2 separate regions of the Homo sapiens genome follow, and region 1 is linked to region 2. Evidence: fine-mapped expression QTL. A gene starts in region 2. The other region holds a variant in brackets. All regions are shown on one strand. Distances are between the middles of the regions. Region 1 overlaps PDS5A (PDS5 cohesin associated factor A). Region 2 holds the start of PDS5A (PDS5 cohesin associated factor A).

Region 1 (9,841 bases), 83 kb before region 2:
CCATTAAAATGCTTAAGAAAACTCAGAGGTTGGTCAACAGCCACACAGATCTAAAATATTCCTTTTTCTGTCTTTCTCTTTGTTCTAAGTTTTCTTTAATGAGAACGCATAAGCTAAAAATAAACATAAGAACTCTTTAAAAACAGAAAGCATTATATAAAGCCAAAGATCATAAAATGAGAAGGCTTTCCCTTCAACTTGAATGATGTACAACCCTGTGATTAAAAAGAGACATACAGAGGTTTTCAGGTATCTTTAGGAGCCCAGAATTTAAATTAACAACATTGTCGTTGCAGATTATTATTTATTTTTGAGCGAATATACTTCTTGGCTTACCTTATGGCTTCTGAATCAATGTGCACAGGTGCGATTCTTTCCAACAGAAATTTGACCATCTCTAGAAAAGGATTTGTTGGTTGCTTAGGATTTGCAAGTTTCCGGGCTATTTCTCTCTATAGAAAGAAAGGAGTTTTACCAAAAACGTGATTTGCTTTCATATTTTTGAAAAGAAAAATGACTAAGGAACTGAAATATTCAAAACCAGCATAAGTGGTTAAGAATTGTCTGCTCTAGACCCTGACTAAAATTTTTACACCCCGAGCAATGACTGAAAAATCTGGACAGCAGAGAAAAGAAGTGGATGATGTGGTTTCTGAGTGAACACAGCCTTGCCTCACAATTCTTTGATGAAATTATTGGTTGATATAGCAACTTTTTTTTTTTTGAGACGAGTCTAACTCTGTCACCAGGCTACAGTGCAGTGGCACGATCTCGGCTCACTGCAACCTCCACCTCCTGGGTTCAAATGATTCTCCTGCCTCAGGCTCCAGAGTAGCTGGGATTACAGGCACGTGCCTCCATGCCCAGCTAATTTTTGTTATTTTTGTAGAGACGGGGCTTCACCATGTTGGCCAGGCTGGTCTTGAACTCCTGACCTCAAGTGATCCACCTGCCTCGACCTCCCAAAGTGCTGGGATTACAGGCGTGAGCCACCACACACCTGGACTATGGCAACCTTTTTAATACTCTAATTTAGAATAAAAACAATTTGTACTTTTATGGGTATGCTTTATTGGTTTTAATTATTTCATAATTTGACAGAACATTGTGTTTTGTTTCAGTTATTTTTTTTTTTGAGCTGGAGTCTCGCTCTGTCAGTCACTCAGGCTGGAATGCAATGGTGCAATCTTGGCTCACTGCAACCTCCGCTTCCCAGGTTCAAACAACTCTCCTGCCTCAGCCTCCATAGCAGCTGGGTTTAAACATGCACGCCACCATGCCCGGCTAATTTTATATTTTTAGTAGACATGGGGTTTCGTCATGTTGGCCAGGCTGGTCTCGAACTCCCGAACTCAGGTGATCCAACCCGCCTCGGCCTCCCAAAATGCTGGGATTATAGGCATGAGCCACTGTGCCTGGCCAGTTAATTTGTTTCTTAAAAAATACATATTCAGGCCGGGCGCAGGTGGCTCACGCCTGTAATCCCAGCACTTTGGGAGGCTGAGGCGGGCGGATCACCTGAGGTCAGGAGTTCGAGACCAGCCTGACCAACATGGAGAAACCCCATCTCTATTAAAAATACAAAATCAGCCGGGCTTGGTGGCGCATGCCTGTAATCCCAGCTACTCGGGAGGCTGAGGCAGGAGAATTGCTTGAACCTGGGAGGCGGAGGCTGCGGTGAGCTGAGATCGTGCCATTGCACTCCAGCCTGGGGAACAAGAGCAACTCCATCTCAAAAGAAACAGAAACACATATTCGTACATATATATATATATACTTGCAAAATTTTTCAGTTCTGGAAGAACATAGGTGGAGGATAAATGAGAACTCTGTACACCCTTAGAATTTTATTTATAAGTTAGACATACAGTTATGGAAGGCTGATAGATAACCCCAATAATAAAAGTAACTCTCAGCCAGGAGCAGTGGCTCATGCCTGTAATCAAAGCACTTTGGGAGGCCAAGGCAGGTGGATTGCCTGAGCTCAAGAGTTTGACACCAGTCTGGAAAACATGGCAAAACCCTGTTTCTACCAAAAAATACAAAAAATTAGCCAGGCGTGATGGTGCATGCCTGGGGTCCCAGCTACTCAGGAGGCTGAGGTGGGGGGGATCACTTGAGCCTGGTAGGCAGAGGTTGCAGTGACCACCTGAGATTGCACAGCTGCACAGACTCTGTCTCAAAACAAAAAACAAAAAACAAAAAAAAGTTAACTATCCATTTAAGCTCAAAGATTATGGTATTAGGCCGGGTGCAGTGGCTCATGCCTATAATCCCAGCACTTTGGGAGGCCGAGGTGACGGATCGTTTGAGGTCAGGAGTTTTGAGACCAGCCTGACCATTCTCAGAGGCCATTCTCAGATTTGTCTTCTCTTTCATTTCTTCTCTACCTCCTCCAAGTGATGTAATTGTGCTAATATATAGAACCAGGCCTGAATCCCAACACTTCTGAACACAACTGCAAAGACGCTATCTTCTTCCCTAAAGCATCTCCTCTGATATCCAGTCAGCCAAACTGAAAATATAGCAGTCATTCTTCACACAATGGTCTAATTCCTATTCATCCTTTAAGACTCAACTTAGGAGTCACTTATTCTAGAAGAAGCCATTCCTGGACCTATTTCCACCCCTGCCTGGAATGAGTAATGCTTCTTTATTTTACCAAAGCACACAATTCAATGGAAATATTTGTCAGCCTCTGTCACTTATTCTGCAAGCTCCATGAGAAACCATGTATTATAAAATTTATTTAATCATGCAGTGAATTATAACAGTGTGTGCTTGATCAAGAAAGAAGATATTTGGACTTCTGAAGATATAATGCATATCCAGGTAACTAGGTAGAGGAGGGTTTTTAAAAGTGTAGTCCATAAACCACTCATGTTGAAACTTGGTTAAAAGATGGAGAGATTCATGATGCTACATCATAACCTATTTTAAAGATGCCTACTCTTTGTAAGGGTAAGACCTATAAAAATGACCATTTATTGAAACCCTGTAGGCAGTGCAGGGGGGCCCTGCATTAGGCCACATATAAAATTTCATTTTACATTATTCTTTTAAAAATTCTATGAGGTTGATAATATTTATAGGTGAAGAAAATGAATAAGGAGGCTTGAAAATACTGAGTAACTTACTAAAGGTCATACTGGTAGTAAACGATATTCAAACCAAGGACTGTTTCATTAAATGTCAAATAAACAAGCTTCCTGGAAAATATTAAAATTTGGGGACCACTCTCATGGGGAGGGGGGCAATGGAGCATAAACTATGACGCACAGCTGAAGCTATGGCAAGTATGTGGTCCTTCTCTAGGGTCAAGGTGTAGAAACCTAAAACCTGAATTCTAAAGGGAAAGTAAATCTATATATCACATTTCAATTCCACTGCTCACTCTCATTCATTATATCCCCCACCCCACACACAAATACACGTCTCTTTTGATAATCTTTGCTCAAAGTATGTTTGCTAAGATTTTTCAGAAATGGAACTTGGACAAAGAGGGAAGAAAATATTAGATTTCTATGCCTACTAACTCTCGTATCAAGTAATATCTACCTCTTGAGAAGTGAGATATGAAAATAAGGAGGTAGTGACAAATACGCATTAGGGTACAGAGAAGGAACTCTCAAGGATGGAATGCAAGCTACATAGAATGAGAGAAACTAAATTTTACATTTGCATTATTTTTCTTTATTCTTCTACATCAGAAAAGGAATGGGGATATTAGAGGAAATATGTAAATAATATTCAGTAGCCCATAGGGGAAAGGACAAACTCATAAAGGTACTCTAGCAGAGGTTTGTTTTCATGTGTGCCTAAGGGAGGTATTCTAAGTCCCACTTTACGTATGAGAACACATAGTTAAATAACATACTCAAGTCACACAATGCTAATATAAGAGCTAGGAAAGAAGGTATAATGAACTCATGCTCTTACCACTGCAAGTGCAGTATTCATTTCTACCTCACTGGTTCCTAATATCAAGAGCACTGATTGGCTATACTGTGTGGCTGTTGCAGTCACAGTGTTGGGATTACAACAGTGAGCCACCGCGCCCAGCCTTTTCAAGCTATTTCATTGTCTGATCTAATTATAATAGTAGATTCTCTGCAGGACACAGTACTCTGGAACTAGAATTCTAAATGCCAAAGAAGTCAATGAAACTTTTAAGCGTTTTCAGCAAATTACTCAGCTCAGAAGTACAAAGCTTATTGGGCATGGTGGATCATGCCTGTAATCCCACTACTTTGGGAGGCCAAGGTGGGTAGGATCACTTGAGTCCAAGAGTTCAAGACCAGCCTGGGCAACATGGTGAAATCTCATCTCTACTAAAAATACAAAAATTAGTCAGGCATGATGGCGCATGCCTGTAATCCCAGCTACTTGGGAGGCTGAGGCAGGAGGATCATTTGAGCCCTAGATGCAGAGGTTACGGTGAGCTGAGATTGTGTCATTACACTCCAGCCTGGGTGACAGAGCAAGACCCTATCTCAAAAAAAAAAGAAAAAAATAAGTAAGTAAATAAAATTTAAAAAAGAAGTGCAAAGGTTGAGGTTGTCTGGGCATTTGGCACATCCACATTCATAGCCCTGAGAGACAAGCCCACTCTTCTCTTCCCTAAATTGGTTTTCCTCCCCATGTCCTCCTAATTATTGGTATTTGTAATGGTATTCAGATCTCTATGCTGAATAAAAGATACATGTTCTATGCAGCTAGACCTCTCCACATATACATCTATTATAGTCCTTATCCTTTATAAGTTATTTTAAAACCATCAACTCTAATCCCTTCTAGAACAAAGTTAGACATATGTAATTGAAATTACATTTCTCTTATTTGTCTCTATAAGCCTGGTCCCAAGCATAGTACTTGACGTTTATGTCTAACATTGTGAGAAGGATTATTTATTTAAATCCAATAGGGCAGTGCAGGGCCCTTATACAGAGAAATACATACCCTCCCCCTGCCCACACACACAAAGAATTATCCATCACTCAATGGTGGAGACAGATTTTGAGAAATGTGTTGTTGGCCAGGCACGGTGGCTCACACCTGTAATCCCAGCACTTTGGGAGGCCGAGGCGGGCGGATCACGAGGTCAGGAGATCGAGATCATCCTGGCTAACATGGTGAAACCGCGTCTCTACTAAAAATACAAAAAATTAGCC[G/A]GGCGAGGTGGCAGGAGCCTGTAGTCCCAGCTACTCGGGAGGCTGAGGCAAGAGAACGCAGTGAGCCAAGATCGCGCCACTGCACTCCAGCTTGGGCGACAGTGAGACTCCGTCTCAAAAAAAAAAAAAAAAAAAAAAAGAGAAATGTGTTGTTAAGGCAATTTCATCATGTGAACATTAGAGTGCACGCACACAAACCTAAATGGTATAGCGTACTACTTCTATGCTACAAAATTGTACAGCATGTTACTATGCTAAATACTGTAGGGAACTGTAACACAGTGGTATTTGTGTATTTGAACATTATCTAAACACAGGGTAAAAATATAAAAGATAAAAACACAATATAAACCATATAATAAAAATGCCATATAAAAGATAAAAAACAGTACACCTACATATAGAGCACTTACCATAAATGAAGCTTACAGGACTGCAAGTTGATCTGGGTAAGTCAGTGAGTAAGTGGTGAGTGAATGTGAAGAAACAGGACATTACAGTACACTACTGTAGACTTTATAAACACTGTACACTTAGGCAGCACGATATTTAAACACTTTTTCTTTCTTCAATGATAAATTATCCTTAGCTTTTTGTAATATTTTTACTTGATGAACTTCAAGGGTTTGTTTTTGTTTGATTGTTTGTTTTTGAGACAGAGTCTCGCTCTGTCGCCCAGGCTGGAGTGCAGTGGCATGATCTCAGCTCATTACAAGCTCCGCCTCCCAGGTTCACACCATTCTCCTGCCTCAGCCTCCAGAGTAGCTGGGACTACAGGCGCCCGCCACCATGCTCAGCTAATTTTTTTTTTTTTGTATTTTTAGTAGAGACGGGGTCTCACCGTGTTAGCCAGGATGGTCTCGATCTCCCGACCTCATGATCTGCCAACCTCGGCCTCCCAAAGTGCTGGGATTACAGGTGTGAGCCACCACACCTGGCCCGGTTTTTTTTTTTTTTAGCTTTTAAAAAAATTTTTGGAGACAGGATCTTGTTCTGTCACCCAGGCTGGAATGCAGTGGTGTGACCATAGCTCACTGTAGGCTTAAAATCCTGGGCTCAAGTGATCCTCCCATCTTGGCCTCTGGAGTAGTCAGGACTACAGGTGTGCGCCACCATGTGCAGCTAGTTTTCTTTAATGTTTTGTAGAGGCGGGGGTTTTGATATATTGCCCAGGTTGGTCTCAAATTCCTGGCTTCAAGTGATCCTCCTGCCTAGGCCTCCCAAAGTGCTGAGATTACAGGTGTGAGCCAATGTACTGATCTTTTTTTTTTTTTTTTTTAGCTTTTTGACTCTTTTGTAGTAACACTTAGCTTAAAACACATTTTGTGTACAGCTGTACACAAAATGGTTTCTTTCCTTATATCCTTATTCTACTAGCTTCTTCCTATTAAAAATTTTTTTGGCTGCATGTGGTGGCTCACACCTGTAATCCCAATATTTTGTGGGGCTGAGGCAGGTAGGTTTCTTCAGCTCAGGAGTTCCAGACCAGCTTGGACAACATGGAGAAACCCTGTCTCTACAAAAAATAAAAAATTAGCTGGGCATGGTGGCATGTGCCTATAGTCCCAGCTACTCAGGAGATTGAAGGGAGAGGATCACGTGAACCCAGGAGGCTGAGGATGCAGTGGGCCATGATAACATCACTGAACTCCAGTCTGGGTGACAGAGCAAAACCCTGTTTAAAAAAAAAAAAAGAAAGTTTTAAAACTTTTTTTTGTGCAAAACTAAGATACAACCACATACAATAGCCTAGGCCTACGCCAGGTCAGGATCACCAAGATGTCACTAGGTGATAGGAATCCTTCAGTTCCGTTATAATCTTTTTTTTTTTTTAATGCTTTAAGTTATGGGATACATGTGCACAATGTGCAGGTTTGTTACACAGGTATACATGTGTCATGGTAGTTTGCTACACCCATCACCCTGAGTTCTGTTATAATATTATGGGACTCCCAAAATACATGTGGTCTTATCTTTGGCCAAAATGTTGTCATGCAGTATACCATTTTAGATACATCAAGAATCTTTTGCCTGGGTGTGTGGCTCATGCCTGTAACCCCAGCACTTTGGGAGGCCGAGGTGGGTGGATCACCTGAGGTAAGGAGTTCAAGATCAGCCTGGCCAACATGGTGAAAACCTACCTCTACTAATAATACAAAAAATTAGCCAGATGTGATGGCTCATGCCTGTAATCTCAGCTACTCGGAAGGCTGAGGCACAAGAATCGTCTGAACCCAGGAGGTGGAGGTTGCAGTGAGGTGAGATAATCACTTGAAGGAGTTTGAGACCACCCTGGGCAACACAGAGACAAAAATTTTTATTTTTTCCTTTTCTTGAGACAGTCTCATTCTGTCACTCAGGCTGGTGTGCAGTGGCATGATCTCGGCTCACTACAACCTCCACCTCCCGAGTTCAAGCAATTCTCCTGTCTCAGCCTCTTGAGTAGCTCAGATTACAGGCATGTACCACCACACCTGGCAAATTTCTGTATTTTTAGTAGAGATGGGGTTTCACCAAGTTGGCTAGGCTGGTCTCGAACTCCCAACCTCAGGTGATCCACACGCCTTGGACTCCCAAGGTGCTGGGATTACAGGTGTGAGCCAATGTGCATGGCCTCCAAAAAATTTAAAAACTTAGCTGGGTGTGGATGCGTGTGCCAATAGTTCTAGCTATTCAGAAGGCTGGGGTATAGGATCACATGAGCACAGGACTTTAACGCTGTAGTGAACTATGATTGTGCCACTGAACTCCAGCCTGGGTGACAAAAGCAAGACTATCTCAGGAAAAAAAAAAAAAAAGCTGAATAAATGAATGCATAAGTTTTCCCTCCTGATAGCTTTAAGAATATTGGTTTTAAATGAGTTCAAGAGAAGAATGAAGACAAAAGTCTAGATAGGAATTTACTTTATCTGTAAATGAAACCAGATATATGGCAATGTTACTACTACTAATTTATTGACGATTATTTCCATTCTAATACATGAAAGAAGAAAATGCACATGTACACAAGCATTCAGAAAATACTTATCATTACTCAATGAATGTCTACTAAGTTCAAAGTACTTTATCTTGTAAAATTCCTAAGACCAATCTCCCTGGCTTAGTTCTTTAGTTATTTTCCTGGAATGTGGCTGAGAGTGAATGGTAAATAGAGAATTAACTTGACAATAGATATACTCCAAAGTAATTCAGAGCTCACAATATTGTTACATTTACACAAATCACTGTATGTAAAACAGGCTTTAATAAAATACATATTTCTGTAAGTAAAGCTAGAGAAAAAGTGTGAAGTATGATTTACTAACCACACAAATATCTGCTTGTTTGCAAGAACAGGTTGGGCTAATTAATAACTCCAACTGAGACCGAAGTTTCTCATCATCGCCGAGAACCTGGTTAAATTTCTTCACAAAATCTTGTGCTTTCCCGGGGTCAGGCAAATTCTCTATAAAATTAAAAGAGAATCAATATTAGAGAAGGAAAAAAAAAAAACTATTCTACTAAGCTAAAAACAGGTGCCATCAAAATATTGCGGAGCCACTAAAAGAAAATCAGCCTAGCTGGTTCTTAGAAACAAAATTAAGATAAAGATTATTTTCTTTTACTTAACATTAAATCAGTAGTCCCACTGGGTAAATACTTTGTCTGCATTTACGTTTACTACATGTTTAGTGAGTAAATAAACATACTCACTTGCTATGGTCATCAGTTTTCCAAACATGGCAGAACAGTTAGCCTCTGACTGAAATTTAAAACAGAAACAAAAGAACAACTAGTCATATGTGTTAACAAATTTCCCTAACAAAAATCAATACTCATTACTGTACATTTTTCATGACGTTAAAAAATAAAGTTCATCACAGTCTGCTCAATGGAAAATGGTTTTACCACATATATACGCTAAACTAACAACAAAGAATTACATAGTAGCAACTATTAAGACAAATAGAAGGAAAGGAGATGTTGGGAGGAAGGTACTTAAAAACCCACAAGTATATAACTTTCACAGGAAAGTTACATTGCCAGAAGATTGAAAAAAGATCAATGAAGCAATCAACATATAAACTTATCATATCAGAATTACTATGAAACTACATGCCACAAAAAATTAACTAAAAATATAGAGAAGAAACTTTTTTTTCTGCAATAGAGTTCTGTTAGCTACTTTGTGGCCCGTTACTTAAATACCTTCAGGAAAACCTCCTTTCTAAAACGTACTTCCCTTTCCTGTATCCCATAAAACATTACTTATTAGTTTTCATTTATACTAAATTTGAATAATTTAGTTCAAAAGTTAGAAAACTATGCCCCCATGAGCTACCTGTTTTTGTTAGTAGTTTCGATGGAATATAGTCATGTCCATTCATTTATTTATCGTGTATGACTAATTTTGCAAAGGCAGGGTTGAATATCTGACCACAGACTCTATGCCTTGCAAAATATGTTTTTGCTATCTGTTGATTTATTTTCAAAGTTTGCTAGGCTAGGTGCAGTATCTCACACCTGTAATCCTAGCAATTTGGGAGGCCTAGGCAGGCAGACTGCATGAGCCCAAGATTTTGAGACCAGCCTGGGAAACATGGTGAAAACTCACCTCTACAAAAAACATACAAAACCTAGCTGGGTATGGTGGAGCACACCCGTAGTCCCAGCTATTCAGAAGGCTGAGG
Region 2 (9,841 bases):
TTCCAGCCTGGGCGACAGGGCGAGACTCCGTCTCAAAAAATAAATAAATAAATAAAAAATAAAAATAAAATTGAGACAGGGTCTATGTTGCCCAGGTCTGAACCTCCTGGGCTCAAATGATCCTCCTGCCTCAGCCCTCAAAATGCTGGGATTACAGGCATGAGCCCCTGTACCCAACCACAACTTTCCTTTTTTTTTTTTTCACTGTTTAAGGAATTTTTTATTAAAAAAAGAATTTTATAATCCAAATTACGCTTCCTTGCTCAGTTATCAATTCTGTTACTTAAAACAGAACTGATATTTTGAGCTATTCCACAGTAAAGATTACAAGGAATGCTTTAAATTTTTGTACTTTGCTGAAAATTATTTTTCCCAGGATCTATAAAACATTAATTTGTCTTTATATTTTATTATTTTTTGTGGGGTTTTTTTTGTTGTTTGTTTTTAAATCAATAAGTAATCTAGGACTAATATTATGTTTGCTAGACCTGGCATTTGCTCGGTACATAATGTTCAAAGTTTCCTTTCCTTTTTAAATTTATTTTATATTTTGCAATTTTTTTTTCCATATTTAAGTTTTTCGATGTTTAGATATTTTTCTTTGGTGAAGCACAAGTTTCTTTTCGTGGTCTCTGATCAATTTTAAACAGCAGGAACACCAATGGCACTGTTAACTGCTTTCTGGGTAGCCTCTTTAGCTTGGTGGGCTTGTAATATAGCTAGCTTCATGAACCTTAGAACAGAGTGACTCTGGACTCTCGAGCATATGAACATTTGCTTTTGCTCTTGAGGGGCAGATGCCAACATGGAAGCAGTCAAAGGTTCCTGACCTTGTACATGAACAGCAGGCTGTTGCATTGTAACTTGTGGCTGTGCATTAAGATGTTGCTGAGGATTGCGAACTCCCGCAGCATATTTATACTGTGGAACGGTGTGGACAGCAGGAGTAGCTGCAGCCAGCAGATACCAGGGTGTTAATATTTACGTGAAAAATCTTGATGATAGTATTGATGATGAACGTCTCCAGAAAGAGTTTTCTCCATTTGGTACAATCACTAGTGCAAAGGCTATGATGGAGGGTGGTCACAGCAAAGGGTTTGGTTTCGTATGTTTCTCCTTCCCGGAAGAAGCCACTAAAGCAGTTACAGAAATGAACGGTAGAACTGTGGCCACAAAACCATCGTATGTAGCTTTAGCTCAGCGCAAAGAAGAGTGCCAGGCTCACTTCACTAACCAGCATATGCAGAGAATGGCAAGTGTACGAGCTGTGCCCAACCATGTAATCAACCCCTACCAGCCAGCACCTCCTTCAGGTTACTTCATGGCAGCTATTCCACAGACTCAGAACCGTGCTGCAAGACCGGGCGCGGTGGCTCACGCCTGTAATCCCAGCACTTTGGGAGGCCAAGAGGGGCAGATCACGAGGTCAGGAGATCGAGACCATCCTGGCTAACACGGTGAAACCCGTCTCTACTAAAAAAATACAAAAAATTAGCCGGGCATGATGGCGGGCGCCCGTGGTCCCAGCTACTCGGGAGGCTGAGGCAGGAGAATGGCGTGAACCCGGGAGGCGGAGCTTACAGTGAGCCGAGATCGCACCCACTCCAGCCTGGGCGACAGAGCGAGACTCTGTCTCAAAAATAAATAAAAACCGTGCTGCATACTCTCCTCCTAGCCAAACTGCTCTACTGAGACCAAGTCCTCGCTGGACTGCTCAGGGTGCCAGACCTCATCCATTCCAATATGCCAGGTGCTATCCCCAAGCTGCTCCTATACCACCACTTAATACTATGAGACCAGCTTCTTCACAGGTTCCATGAGTCATGTCAACAGAGCGGTTGCTAACACATCAACTTTCCATTTTTTAACCAAATTATCCAACATTAGAATTCAAGGTTTCAATATTCTTAATTTGAAAACAATAAATATTAACGATCCATCAATTGTTTAAGTTTTATATTTCATAATTTCTCACTCCCAAAACAGTGTAACTTTTAGAAGCATCAATCAAGCAGCTCAATTCATGTATAATCTTTAGTATCAATATTTGCTTTATTTATTTTATTTTACTTTTTTGAGATGAAGTTTCACTCCTGTTGCCCAGGCTGGAGTGCAATGGCGCGATCTCCGCTCATCAAAACTTCCGCCTCCCGGGTTCAAGCGATTCTCCTGCCTCAGCCTCCCAGTAGCTAGGATTACAGGTATGCGCCACCACGCCCAGCTAATTTTGTATTTTTAGTAGAACTCCAGACCTCGGGTGATTTGCCTGCCTCGGCCTCCCGAAGTGCTGGGATTACAGGCTGGAGCCACCACACCAGGCCCAAGATTTGTTTTAATGAAAGGGGCTGGGAGCAGTGGCTCACACCTGTAATCGCAGCATATTGGGAGGCCGATGCAGGCAGATCATTCGAAGTCAGGAGATCGAGACCAAAGTGACCAACATAGTGAAATCCCATCTCTACTAAAAATACAAAAATTAGCTGGGCGTGGTGGCAGGCACCTGTAATCCCAGCTACTAGAGAGGCTGAGGCAGAATTGCTTGAACCCGGGAGGTGGAGGTTGCAGTGGGCCGAGACGCGCCACTGCACTCCAGCCTAGGTGACAGAGCAAGACTCCGTCTCAAAAAAAAAAAAAAAAAAAAAATTTAGCCGGGTGTGGTGGCACACGCTGGTAGTCCCAGCTACTTGGGAGGCTGAGGCAGAATAGCTTGAACCTGGGAAGTGGAGGTTGCAGTGAGCTGAGATCCCGCCGCCGCACACAGATTTGTTTTAATGAAAGGAACTGTTGTCTTATTCCTTCCAAAAAGGCAACAAATTGCAGAACCAAATTAAGAGTCTGAAAACTAAACCACAGGAATATTTTAAATACTGTACTCATTAAAATGCAACATTAGGTACATTTACTGGGCTCCAAGAGCAAGAGGCCAAGCTCATTCCCTAAAATACATTTGGCCAAGTGGCCCAAGGTGGAAACATTGTCAACAATGTTGCTTCCCTCACCTCCCACCAATTCTGATTGATTCTAACTCTGAAAAGTTGTTAAATCATTTCCTAGTCACTATTACCAATGCCATAGCCCTACCTGAAGATTTCAACGTCTTTCACCTAGACTACTGTTTACAGTTTCCTAGCCGGACTCACTGCCTCTGGTCTTCCCCTACTCCAATCTAGCACCAATTGTGACAACCAAAATGTCTCCAGCATTGCCAAACATCTCCTGGAGGTCAAAGTTGCCCTGACTCAGAACCACTGCTTCAAGCTGTTCCTACAAGAAGAATATTACTTATTTGTTAAGATTCTGGCCACAATCTATGTCAGTGGAACAGAAACCAAAAAAACTAACAAACATGAGGTTGAAATTTAAAACCTTAACCTTAGGACTGCCATGCTTAAACAAAATTAGCTGACACCTCATAAAAAGGGCCATAATACTCTTAAACTCCTTTGAACGTATAGACTTAAATCATCTTACTTTAAGCCTGAATTATGAAAAGTCTGTACCTTCTGTCAAAGTTTAACCACCATATATACATATTTAAGCTTCTGGATATAGAAAATTATGCAAATTTTTAAAAAGGACTTTGCGCTTTAATCAATCCCCTTCAGAAGCTGAAAATAGTAAACTTCTTAGGCAAATTACTGCCTACACCTAAGTTTGCAAGCCACTCTGAACAGTATTCTCATTAAATACCTCCAGAAAAAACTCTAAAAACACAAATTCTTATGCTTGAAAACCAGTAAGTTTTTGAAAAATCACACTCCTTTTAAATTTCCCACAATGGTTATATCCCTACAAAACTCACTCAAAGATGTTATCTGAGATACAACAGTACCTTTCAGAGGGGGTAAGAGATCTAAAAAACTTGGAACTTTAAAGGCCAGACTGAGCAGGGTAGCAGTATCACAGGAGAAAGCGCCTTCTACCAAAGACATCAAAATCCGTCCAGACACTTACCTTCAGGCGTTTGATCATCTCGTCCGTGGTGATCTTGTCGGTGATCTCTTTTACCCCCGGAGGGTAAGCGATCTTCCCGTCGGCACTCACGACGCCACAGAGGGCAGTGGCAGGCTTGGGCTGCGCGGTGAAGTCCATCCTGGGGGACAACTTTTGGTTCACAGTCCTCTACCGGCCTCTATCGGTCAGAAAACCAAAGTTCAGCGGGAAAGGGGCGACTTTGTAACCTCTTTTTTCATTTCAAATCTCTCTAATCTGGAAAAGGCCCTGTCTCCCCAGAGGCCGGGGACCCGGCAGCGGCCTCGCCACCCGCTCTTTCCCAGGGATCGAACCCCGCCGGCCCCGCCAACCCGGCCCTGCCAGCCCCAGGCTCACGGGGCTCCTCCGCACCAGCCGCCGTGGCCGCCGAACAGCGCCAGGAGTTTCCCATTCCGCCTTTCACAATGAAATCCACCCCCGAGCACCAGGGTCCGAAGTTTGGCGGCCCCGGGAGGCCGGCAAGGACCCCAAGGCCCCCGCTCGGCGGTGGGGAAGCACCCAGTCCCGCCCGGCCAGTCCCCTCCGGGAAACCAGACCCGAGGCCTATAGGGCTCGGCTTAGGCCGCAAAACTAGGGACCCAGCGGACCCACGCGCAGCGGCGGCTGCCGGGAACAAAACGCCCTTGCCCAGCCGAGCCTCGGACCCGGGGTAGTCCCCGCCGCGCTGCCACCCCTCCCCTGTTCCGCTCCCTCACCCCCGCGGGAGGGGAAAACAAGCCGCCCTCCACCCTCAGCCCCACGCCAGGAAGCGGCTGACGCGCCTCCGCACTTCACATTTTGTTCCTTCAACTTCGGCTGAGGGACCCCAGCTGCTTCTCTGGCCCCCGGCCGCTTGGCGCCTCCGGCACCGCCGAGGCCTTCCCGGCACCCTCGGGCGGCCCCACCGGGCCTCGGACCCGCGGCCCCCCCCTCCAGTCTCCCCTTCCGTCCCCTCCCTCCAGCAGCCTAGGGCGGGAGCCGAGCCGCCGCCGCCTTTACCTCCTCCTCATGCGGGCGGAAGGTGCATCGAGCGCCCGGGCCTCTGTCAGGTGGTTGCGCCGCCGCCCCTAGTCGGGCTGCACACAAAGCGGCTCCGCGGGTCCCGCCGCCGCCGCCGCCGCCGCCCGCCCGCCCGGGAGCGGCGCTGGGGCTGGCGGTGCCGAGGAGGAGCAGCCGCCGCGGGGGGAGACGCGGGGCGAGTGAGCGCTGGGCGGGGAGACAGTGCCGCTCTCCGTCTGGCCGAGGAAGAGCAGCCTCGAAGGCTCCTCCGGGAGTGTGTGCGCTTGTGTCCGTCCGGGACCCCCGCGGCCCGCCCGCACGCACCTCGCGCCGGCCCGGACCGCCGACTCGGACCCGGACGCCCCTCGCAGAGGCGCGCGCCCGGCCGTCCGTGCCCCGGGAGCCGGGGCCTCGCGCACACACCGGCCGGTCACGCGAGCGGCGCGAGAGCACGCGAGAGCAGCGCGCGCTCCTCGCTCCCTCCCCTTCCTCCGCCGGCCGTGCATCCGCCTCCCTCGGGCCCGAGGCGGCCGCGCGCAGGGCGGACAGCGCCGCCACCCGGTTGGCGCCAATACCTGCCGCGCGGGGCGCCTCCCGGAGGACCCGACCGGAGAGGGCGAGAGGAGGAGGAGCCCGGGTGGCGGGAAGCGAGCCCAGGTTCCCGCGGCCTTGCGAGGGCACGCAGGGCAAACAGTGCTTTATCTTTCGCAGCGGCGATGAGCTGGTGACTTTTGGGGGTCATCCTGAGGGACATAGACGAAACTGGTTGGGAGGTAGTTAATTGCTCGGTGAAAATGAACTGATTTCCTCCTCAGGGAGAGATCTGCAAAGTCAAGGAAAGTTGTGCAATGGGGCGCAGCGTGAGCGGCTCACTCTCGGGTCTTCTGACAGCCACCCGAGTTGCCCACCCTCCTTAGATTTCTGAAGTTAATATTTTGAAAGCTGCAAAACATGAAAATAGCATTGGGTCGAGTCGTTCTCAAGGTATGGTCTTTGGGCCACCAGGCCTCACAATCACTTTGGGTACTGGCTGAAAACGTAGGTTTCCAACTCCAAAGATTAAAAAACATAAAAATATATGTTTTTTTAACGTAAAAATATATATGAACATAAAACATATAAAAATATAACATATAAAATAAAACACTAAAAAATATAAAAATATACATAAACATAAAAATCTCTGAGAGTGGAACCCAGAAATAAGCATTTATTAATTGGGTGGGTGATTCTTGTAAATAAGGAAGAGCTCATTTTTTAAAAATGTTTTAAACCTACCAAGCATTAACGTTTTCTGTCATCCAAAGGAAAACCACTATCAGGTAAAAACAGTGCACGCAGCAGTGTTTGAGCAATTTAATGTATGTAATTGAAACAAATTAACGCAAGAACATACACTTACCTATTTAAAAAAAATCAAGAGCATACACAAAATTTCCGAAGAGAAAGTTGAAAAAAGGATACGATAATATGAAATCACATTCAGCTCTTGAAACTGACCACTACCATAGTTTAAAATGATATTCGATTGTTTATTCAAATTATTCTTGATGGGTACCCATTGGTCTATTTTTTTCCCACATCCTTTAACGTCAACTTAAAAATAGTAAAGGTACTGCATTTCAGCTCACTGACTTGTTTTTGACGTATTACACAAGAGCAGTCATTGCGAATCTGACACTCCACAGTTGCTGATTTGCTAGAACTCTGCCCAAAAGTCAATGCTTTGTTCTTGGGCATTTACAGTACCAGGCAGAATCCATTTAAAAGTGTCCTCATCCAAACTATTAAGTGGACCAAAAGCTGCTCTCTTTTTAGGCTCTCCCTGTCACTTTTGATATTTATTTTTTTCTTTTGAGACGGAATCTTACTCTGTCACCCAGGCTGGAGTGCAGTGGCGTGATATCGGCTCACTGCAAGCTCTGCCTCCCGGGTTCACGCCATTCTCCTGCCTCAGTCTTCCGAGTAGCTGGGACTACAGGCGCCCGCCACCACGCCCGGCTAATTTTTTTTTTTTGTATTTTTAGTAGAGACGGGGTTTCACCATGTTAGCCAGGATGGTCTCGATCTCCTGAGCTAGTGATCCGCCCGCCTCGGCCTCCCAGAGTGCTGGGATTACAGGCATGAGCCACCGCGCCCGGCCAAATTTGATATTTCTTTGTGTGTTACATTTAATTAAACAACAATGATTTTATCTTTCATCCTCCTCAGTAGCTTGCCCATTATTAAATGGAGTTTTGTATATGTACATATATTTTATTTTATTTATTTTTTATATTATTTTATTATTTTTTGAGATGAAGTCTCACTTTGTCGCCCAGACTGCAGTGCAGTGGCATGATCTCGGCTCACTACAGCATCCGCCTCCCAGGTTCAAGCGACTTTTGTGCCTCAGGCCCCCAAGTAGTTGGGACTACAGGTGTGTGCCACCATACCGGGCTAATTTTTTTTTGAGACAGAGTCTCCCTCTGTCGCCCAGGCTGGAGTGTGGTGGTGTGATCTTGGCTCACTACAACCTCTGACTTCTGGGTTCAAGCAATTCTCCTGCCTCACCCTCCCAAGTAGCTGGGATTACAGGCGCCCGCCACTATGCCCGGCTAATTTTTGTTATTTTTAGTAGAGACAGGGTTTCACCATGTTGGTCAGGCTGGTCTCAAACTCCTGACCTCAGGTAATCTGCCCGCCTCACCCTCCCAAAGTGCTGGGATTACAGGCTTGAGCCACCGTGCCTGGCCTTACTGGTTGATTTCTTTTTTTTTTTTTTTAACATGGAGTCTCACTCTATCACCAGGCTTGAGTGCAGTGGTGCGATCTCGGTTCACTTCACCTCTGCCTCCCAGGTTCAAGCGATTCATCTGCCTCAGTCTCCCAAGTAGCTGGGACTACAGGCGTACACCACCACGCCCAGCTTATTTTTATATTTTTAGTAGAGATGGAGTTTCACCATATTGGCCAGGCTGATCTCGAATTCCTGACCTCGTGATTTGCCCGCCTCGGCCTCCCAAAGTGCTGGGATTACAGGTGTGAGCCCCTGCGCCTGGCCTATTTTATTTTTTCGAGACGAAGTCTTGCTCTGTTGCCCAGGCTGGAGTGCAGTGGTACAATCTGGGCGCACTGCAACCTACGCCTCCTGGGTTCAAGCAGATCTCCTGCGTCAGCCTCCCAAGATCTGGGACTACAGGCATGCGCCACCACGCCTGGCTAATTTTTGTACTTTTAGTAGAGACAGGGTTTTACCATGTTGGCCAGCCTGGTCTCGAACTCTTGACCTTAGGTGATCCACCCACCTTGGGCTCCCAAAGTGCTGGAATTACAGGCATGAGCCACTGCACCCAACCTCCACCAAGCTTTTCTTCCCCGCTCAGTGCCCAAAACAATGCCTTATATTATAGGCCTCTTTAAATAATTGTTTCACAAATGAAGGCCTGCCCTCCTGGTGGACCTTAATTTGTTTGGGGAGAAATAGACCAAAATAACAATAATACATGTATATGAAAATAAAGTAGGGAAGAGTTGGGCACGGTGGCTCGCACCTGTAATCCCAGCACTTTGGGAGGGGGAGGCAGGCAGACTATTTGAGGTCACGAGTTTCAGACCAGCCTGGCCAGCATGGTGAAACCCCATCTCTATTAAAAAGACAAAAAATTAGACTCAGTGGCTCAGGCACGGTGGCTCAGGACTGTAATCCCAGCACTTTGGGAAGCCGAGGTGGGTGGATCACCTGAGGTCAGGAGTTCCAGACCAGCCTGACCAACATGGTGAAACCCTGTCTCCACTAAAAATACAAAAATTAGGCAGGCGCACTGGCACATGTCTGTAATCCCAGCTACTAAGAAGGCTGAGGCAGGAGAATCGTTTGAACCGGGGAGATGGAGGTTGCAGCGAGCTGAGAAAGCACCACTGCACTCCAGCCTGGGCGACAGAGTGAGACTCCCTGGAGTGAGAGAGAGTACAGATCACATGTAGCCTTTTAGACCTCTGGTAAGACTGTGGCTATCCTCTGATTGAGGTGGGGAACTAATGGACTGTTTTAAGCAAAGAGGTGATATGATGTATGTCCTGAGTTAGGCAATGTTGGTCAAACCACTTAATTCTTCTGTGCCTCATTTTCTTCATCTGTAAAACAAGGATAATGATAGTATCTTCCTCACATGATCATTATGAGGAATACATAACTTAATTTTTTTTTCTGTCGCCCAGGCTGGAGTGCAGTGTTGCAGTCTCGGCTCACTGCAACCTCTGCCTCCCAGGTTCAAGTGATTCTCTTGCCTCAGCTTCCCTAGTAGCTGTGATTACAGGCACGCACCACCATGCCCAGCAATTTTTTGTATTTTTAGTGTGATGGGATTTCACCATGTTGGCCAGGCTGCTCTTGAACTCCCGACCTCAGGTGATCCGCCCGCCTTGGCCTCCCAAAGTGCTAAGATTACAGGTGTGAGCCCCTGCGCCTGGCCATAAGTTAATATTTGTAAAATGCCTAGAATAGTAACTCGCATATACTAAGCTCTACATAATTTTTTTTAATAAAATAAAATAAAAAAATCAAAGAGTTTTATGTGGTTAATAATTGCACAAAGGGGTGGCTTTGTGAGTCTTTATTCTACCTCCCACATAATTTCAATCAGTGTCCCCCTCACACATACATTCAGTTATATAATCTATGTACAAAATTGCGTCCAATGCAATTTGAGGACAAACCCCTAACCCCCAATTTCACTACAGCTCCTTCTATATACAAATTCTAGAGCTCCTGACCAACATGGCAAAACCTCATCTCTACTAATATATATATATATATTTGCATATATATATATATGCAAAAATTAGCCTGGTGGGGTGGCGCACACCTGTAGTCCTAGCTACTTGGGAG

The links. PIP is the estimated chance that this variant, and not a neighbour inherited with it, causes the effect. A credible set is the group of variants that fine-mapping cannot tell apart.
Region 1: its variant is the best candidate, but not a certain one, in a credible set for the expression of PDS5A in lung (TOPMed, PIP 0.60).

The regions. Positions count from the first base shown.
Region 1 is chr4:39,889,913-39,899,753 of GRCh38, forward strand. It overlaps PDS5A (PDS5 cohesin associated factor A), which reads right to left. Exons shown (of 33, transcript NM_001100399.2): 15 at 8,865-8,913; 16 at 8,477-8,616; 17 at 337-452. Among named protein-coding and RNA genes, the nearest start is that of PDS5A, 83 kb to the right of the region's middle. The variant G/A (reference allele first, on the strand shown) is at 5,172.
Region 2 is chr4:39,972,486-39,982,326 of GRCh38, forward strand. PDS5A (PDS5 cohesin associated factor A) reads right to left here and starts at 5,426. Exons shown (of 33, transcript NM_001100399.2): 1 at 4,972-5,426; 2 at 3,955-4,132. The coding sequence starts at 4,092. It also overlaps the pseudogene PABPC1P1. RefSeq lists an enhancer at 3,765-4,673 and silencers at 4,211-4,960, 5,011-5,650.